Homo sapiens: one gene and its partner. The protein of the gene in region 1 interacts with the protein of each later gene in a pairwise test. Each region holds a gene or a part of one and is shown on either strand. Other genes may lie near its edges.

Region 1 (3,398 bases):
TTCAGCAACCTTTACATAATGCCTATTGCCTACAAGATAAAGTTCAAAATCCTAAGTGTAGGATACTAAGCACAGTACAAATTCTTCATACTGTGGCACTAACCCACCTTTCCGTCTTCATTCCAACAGATTCAGAACCTATGCTTCAACCAGGCAACACTTTTTGTCATACCATGGGGGCCCTGTGGCATTTTGTTTCAATGGCTGAAATCTCCTTCCTATTTATTTCTATCTGCTCAGCTCCTTTTCACCCTTCAAGATCCAAACAGATGTTCTCTTTTTGTGAAGGGCTTCCTAAGTTTTCTAGGAGAAGTCTGTGGCTTCTACCTCTAAATTCTCATATCATAACCTGGAAAATCTAAATGTACAATCCTTTGTTATTGTTTGCTGGTTTACTTCTCTGTGTCTGTCTTCTTCTCTATGACCCCTGTAAGGGCAGGAGCCTATTGCGACTTTTTGCATGATGCCCAACATACAACAGGTGTTCAATCAATGAGCATTTTATATGTAAATTCTAATTTTGATATGTAAATATCTAAGAGAGATGTAAATTCTAGCATAGGAATCCAAAACTGCAAAATCATTCCAATAAGAAAATGGCTAAAAAGAAAGCAGTTTCATGCTAAGCATTTTTTTAATCCAACATCTTGTTGATTTGCATCTCATTTGGCTTCTGATTCCTCTGCATTGTGCAATTTTCTACTTTAGAACTTGAGCCATCTTATCTGAAAAAATGGGTCAAGAAAATATGTACATGTTTTTAAGCCTTTCTAAGTAAGCCATTTCTAAAGGTTTTACCAGTTTAGTATTTTTCATATTCTAAAGTAATTCTAAATCATCATACTAAATTTTCTACCTTTATCTACTTTTAAAACTTTATTTTTAGAGTTTTAGTGGTTTAGATGAAACTCGGAAATGTCTCTATTCTGGACCACAGAGCCTGGAAGTAAGACAGGGGTGTTCAATGTTTTGGCTTCCCTGGGCCACATTGAAAGAAGAATTGTCTTGGGCCACACATAAAATACACTAACACTAATGACAGCTGATGAGCAAAAAAAGAAAAAAAATCACAAAAAAATCTCATAATGTTTTAAGAAAGTTTATGAATTTGTGTTGTGCTGCATTCAATGCCTTTCTGGGCCACAGGTTGAACAAGCTTGCTGTAAGATGTTGCTAAATCTCCCCAAGTATGTTTCATAAAGCACTGACCTATAGAGCTAATCTCTGAAAACAAACAAAAAGCAGTCCATGGTCAAGTAAGTTTGGAGAAAAATATATGCTATATCTCTGTATTGAAAAGTCATAGAGCATTTTAGCACATTAAAGGCTCCGAGAGGCCCAACAATGAAGAATTCAGCATTTCCCAAACTTACTTACCAGAAAACACTTTCAAGTCCCTTGGAACCAGTGTTCATGGAACTCAGTCTGGTAAATACTGCATCATTTAGCTTCTGAATGGCCCAATACAACCAGCCTTTTGGTTATAAATAATCTCCATTTATAACACAGTTGGATGGAGCTTAAAGGACACCCATCTTTGTCACCCATGAAGGTCTTCATTCCCACCTGCATGTTCTTACCAAGTTATTGTTCAGAGCATATTTGAAAGGAATGCAGAACAAACGATTTGTTATAGCTCTGTTTGAAAGTGCCTCTTTACACAAAACCAAAATCTATTTCTCTATAGATTCTATCCATTCATCTTCATTCAGTTTATTGGAGCCACAAATAATAAATCTAAAATGTTATATCACTTTTTCAGCCTGAGGGCCTAAAGGATCACATAGAACCTGTAGTCACTGGTAGAACAGCAAACAAAAAGCTTACTTGTCCTCTTCATCTGAAAAGTAAACAAAAGAAGTGGGAAACGTTTGCAGATGCCTGGCATACCGAGCCATTATTAGTGAGGGTATAATGATTAGAAGATAATGGCCCGGTACCTTTGAAGACTGGAATGAAGATTTCTGTGTAGTGACACACTGGCAATGTGAATAGTCCTAATTTGACAACAAAACAACCTAAATCTCTTTTATGAGGTGAGCAGTGTATCTTAGGTAATAAACACTTAAGTAATTAGGCATTTTTTATGGAAATAACTATAAACTGAAACATGGGGGAAAAACCCTCAGTAATAGGCTGACGCCCAGGGAGATGGGTATATAAGAGCCAGAGCAGAAGAGAGGAGCATCGAGACACCAACAGACTTCTCTCAACTCAACAAAAACCCACCTCCCATTGCCATGTATTGCTGTGCTCTCCGCTCCTGCAGCGTCCCCACCGGCCCTGCCACCACCTTCTGCTCATTTGATAAAAGCTGCCGCTGTGGAGTCTGCCTACCCAGCACCTGCCCACATGAGATCAGCCTCCTTCAGCCCATCTGCTGTGACACCTGCCCCCCACCCTGCTGCAAGCCTGATACCTATGTGCCAACTTGCTGGCTGCTCAACAACTGTCACCCGACTCCCGGACTGAGTGGGATCAACCTGACCACCTATGTTCAGCCTGGCTGTGAGAGTCCCTGTGAGCCCCGCTGTTAACCAGCCGAGTCTGCACAGGTTCCGTGAGGTGGCTGCCCAATGTCCTCTGCACCATCTGGGCTTCAGCACTCACTACTGCCTACATCAAGGCTAAGGCCATCCCAATCCCCGGGGCCAAGTCTTGATGAATCTTCTTAATTATTTGCACATTTGGGTACCATTGGAGACCTCCCTTCTGTCTTTTAGGCTATTTCATCACTCTTTGAGAAATAACCATTTTGACCATTTGTTAATAAACTTTATTCTGGCTTAGCAAATATGACCTTGTGATTATTTATTTTCATGTCTCCCATTAGGGAAAGTGGAATGCCTACCTAAACCTGAACAGTAGGTTATCACACTATCCAAGATTTACCCCAACAGAATAAGAGCTCTCATAGTGGAATTTATCGAAAAAATAGATACTGGTTATTTGTGATAAGTTAAAAAGTAAAAAATGTGGTAGTTCATTTTATAGAAGCTTTTTATTTAACAGATATTTATTTAATAGATATTATTGGAAGACATCCACTGTGCAAGCACTATGCTAGAGTCTAGAGATTAACAGAATGTTTTAAAAATACTTGATTTTAGTTTCCATTGATTCTGACATTGATTTTTCTTTCTTCCTTAATTGACTAAATGAATTGATCACTGTGCTGGTGTGTATAAATAATTTGATTATCCTAGTCCTCACAGTCATCTGAAATTCTGAGCTCAAAATGCAAAGCAATTTTGAGAAGTGTATATATCCATTTCTTCATATATGCTGTCTTCCAAAACAATCCATTTTTAATTAATGTTAGCATTTATCGAGTATTCATTGATTCCTCAAATGGGGCTTACATTGGTTTACATTAGTCATGACTATGATTAGAAGTT
Region 2 (3,754 bases), on another chromosome or scaffold:
ACTGCACTTCATTCAGCCTGGGCTATGGAGTGAGACCCTGTCTCTAAAAATAAGCATAGGCTGGGCACGGTGGCTCACTCTGTAATCCCAGCACTTTGGGAGGCTGAGGTAGGTGGATCACTTGAGATCAAGAGTTTGAGACCAGCCTGGCCAACATGGTGAAACACCATCTCTACTAAAAATACAAAAGTTAGCTGGGTGTGGTGCTGCACGCCTGTAATCCCAGCTACTCAGGAGGCTGAGGCATGACAATCACTTGAACCTGAGAAGTGGAGGTTGCAGTGAGCCGAGATCACACCACTGCACTCCATCCTGGGCAGTGAAGTAAGACTCTGTCTCCAAAAATAAATAAATAAAAAAAATAAAATTATGTCCCTTTCTTACTAGAGGGGCATGGGGAATCCCACTCACAGGGATTCCCCCAAATGAGTTCCCGGACATATCACATAATTGCTCCTGATTCTTTCCAGCCAGGAGGCTTTCAACCCAAAACACCCATCCTGCCCCATTTCTAAAGAGAGCAGGGAACCAGTGTTAACTAAGATTTTTGTGTGTTTACAGTATATGATTATGCCCATTTTACACATGAGAAAAGCAGATTCTTGGAGAAGTCAAGATGGTCAAAGCTTTTTTTTTTTTTTTTTTTTTTGAGTTGGAGTCTTGCTCTGTTGTCCAGGCTAGAGTGCAGTGGTGTGATCTTTGGCTCACTGCAACTTCTGTCTCTCAGGTTCGAGCAATTCTCCTGCCTCAGCCTCCCAAGTAGCCGGGATTACAGGCACCCGCCACCATGCCTGGCTAATTTTAGTATTTTTAGTAGAGACGGGGTTTCACCATATTGGTCAGGCTGGTCTCTCTGCCAGGCTGGTCTCGAACTCCTGACCTCGTGATCCGCCCGCCTCGGCCTCCCAAAGTGCTGGGATTACTGGCCTGAGCCACCACGCCTGGCCTTTGTCAAAGGTTCTTACCTTGTAAGTGGCTGAGTTAGAATTTCAGCTGTATTACAAGTTGCTGGGCCCAAAACTCATAGAATATTGACATATTTTATCAGTTATAAAATGCCTCCATGTACAAGCACTGCTAGGGGAGGTAATTAGCTCTGTGTGGAGAGGGGTTTACACACAGTATAGGTTGAATACCAGCTTGTTGGGATGTTTTAGAGGAGATTCAGACATTAGCCAGTTGTTGGATGACATGGGGTTTAAGGTCTTTTCCAACTTTTTGATGTCATCATCAGTATTTTGTTCAAATTTAAAAGACACATAGAATGTTCTCTAATCTTGATTAAACAATTATTTTATTTCAGTGAAGAAAATATTTGGAAGCTCTGTGAATACATCAAAAACCATGACCAGTATCCTTTAGAAGAATGTTATGCTGTCTTCATATCTAATGAGAGGAAGATGGTAAGTTGGTGAGTGATTGCAGAAAGAAAACAAGAGATTTAGGATGACATTAGAAGCTAAATTAAAAAAAAAAAAGCTAAATATAGCATGGGTGTAGTACTCTTCTGAAGTGTGCTTTATTAAATACAGCAACATTTAAAAGCTTGCTTTTGAATGAGATTTTTTTCCTTACAAGGCACGATTGAGTTAGAAGAGTTGAGTCCCTTCTGTCGCCCAGGCTGGAGTGCAGTGGCGTGATTCTTGGCTCACTGCAACCTCCACCTCCCGGGTTCAAGCGATTCTCCTGCCTCAGCCTCCCAAGTAGCTGAGACTACAGGCATGTGCCACCACGCCCAGCTAATTTTTGTATTTTTTAGTAGAGATGGGGTTTTGCTATGTTGGCCAGGCTGGTCTCGAACTCCTGGCCTCAAGTGATCCTCCCACCTCAGCCCCCCAAAGTGCTGGGAGTACAGGTGTGAGCCACCATGCCCAGCTTAGTCCCTTACTTTAGGTAAGGAAATATGTGATGGTCTACGCAGATAAAGTCCCTTTTCTTTAGGTATCAATGTAGACCTGTTTTTTTTTGTTTGTTTGTTTGTTTTTTCTTTTATTTTTTGGTACGGAGTCTCACTCTGTTGCCCAGGCTATAGCACAATGGTGTGATCTCGGCTCACTGCAACCTCTGCCTCCCAGGTTCAAGTGATTTTTGTGTCTCAGGCTCCCAAGTAGCTGGGACTACAGGTGTCCCACCACGATGGCCGGCTAATTTTTGTATTTTCAGTAGAGACAGGCTTTCTCCATGTTGGCCAGTCTGGTCTCGAACTCCTAACCTCAGGTGACCTGTCTGCCTTGGCCTCCCAATGTGGTGGGATTACCAGCATGAGCCACTGTGCCTGGCCATTTTTTTTTCTTTTTTTAAATTCAAGATGGAAGATGTAGACTTTTTAAAAATTGCTTAGAGACGCATACTCTCAGTTTTAAAGTAAGGATTTGTCTCTGGAGTTTAAATAGAACTACAGTCAACTTACATGAAGAATTAGAAAAAGTAAGCCCTTCATATTTTGTAAAACACATTTGCAGGCATCATCTCATTTGATCCCAATGGAAGCCCTGTGAAGCAGGCAATATTTGGACAAGTTTCTTCATTTTATAGATGAAGAGATTAAGACTTAGGGTGGCCCTATGAATAATTAAATGGGAGAGCAAGATTTGATACCTGCCAGGACTTCTGATTCCTAGTTCAGATCCCTTTTCACTCTCCAAAGACCATCATACAATAACTAGTGCTCTTGAGAGCTTTCATTGTTGGGGATACTTAGAAGGATTTCGATTTCTTCCTCTTCATTCATTCCTTCACCTTGATTTTTGCATGCTTAAAAATATTTTATTTCTCATGTATGTATTGCTTTAAATAGTAGTAGCCAGGTACAGTGACACGTGCCTGTAGTCCCAGCTACTTGTGAGGCGGCTGAGGCGGGCAGATCTCTTGAAGCCAAGAGTTCAAGGCTGCAGTATACTATGATGGCACCTGTGAGTAGCCACTGCACTCCAGCCAGGGCAGCATCACAAGATCCTGTCTTGGCCAGGTGCGGTGGCTCACGCCTATAATCCCAGCACTTTGGGAGGCTGAGGTGGGCAGATCACTTGAGATCAGGAGTTCGAGACCAGCCTGGCCAACATGATGAAACCTTGTGTCAAAACCCTTCATCAAAAAATAAAAATAAAAAATTAGCTGGGTGTGGTGGCACACGCCTGTAATCCCAGCTACTTGGGAAACTGAGGCAGGAGAATTGCTTGAACCCGGGAGGTGGAGGTTGCAGTAAGCCCAGATTGTGCCACTGCACTCCAGCCTGGGTGACAGAGCAGGACTCTGTCTCAAAAAAAAAAAAAAAAAATCCCGTCTCAAAAAAAAAAAAAGGAAAATAATTTAGTAGTGGTTTAACTAAAGGTATGGCTTACGAAATGTATTGTATTTTGTAGATACCTATCTGGAAACAACAGGCGAGACCTGGAGATGGACCTGTGATCTGGGTAAGACAGTTAATACAGAGAGTATTGACGCATTATGACTTGTAACCCCTTAGTGTTCTGTATGTTTTGGTAAAGCAGAAGTGACCTAAGCAGTAGAGAAAGGCTATGGTAATTATTAATAAATTGACCTTTTGAGAATAGATGTTATTTGATCTAAGGTAGAAACACTGTAGGCATATTTTCTTTTAACTTTTTGTTTTGAAATTATTATAGGAATGATTTTAAATGGTGGATATATTTGTGATCTAGACTCTTACCATTTAGCACAGGAAGGAACTTTGGCTACACATTAGAATTATCTGGAGACTGTTAAAAATGTAGTTTTCGGCTGGGCGCGGTGG

Evidence for each region. The genes of interacting proteins can lie anywhere in the genome.
Region 2: the proteins of KRTAP3-1 (region 1) and NTAQ1 interact in binary tests that used the Homo sapiens proteins (3 or more experiments, as listed by UniProt).

Annotation. Positions count from the first base shown.
Region 1 is NC_000017.11:41,007,917-41,011,314, reverse strand, and holds KRTAP3-1 (keratin-associated protein 3-1), read left to right. Parts: upstream 1-2,186; 5' UTR 2,187-2,240; coding exon 2,241-2,537; 3' UTR 2,538-2,794; downstream 2,795-3,398. UniProt on the Homo sapiens protein: In the hair cortex, hair keratin intermediate filaments are embedded in an interfilamentous matrix, consisting of hair keratin-associated proteins (KRTAP), which are essential for the formation of a rigid and resistant hair shaft through their extensive disulfide bond cross-linking with abundant cysteine residues of hair keratins.
Region 2 is NC_000008.11:123,426,621-123,430,374, forward strand, and holds part of NTAQ1 (protein N-terminal glutamine amidohydrolase), read left to right. Parts: intron 1-1,303; coding exon 1,304-1,403; intron 1,404-3,362; coding exon 3,363-3,413; intron 3,414-3,754. UniProt on the Homo sapiens protein: Mediates the side-chain deamidation of N-terminal glutamine residues to glutamate, an important step in N-end rule pathway of protein degradation.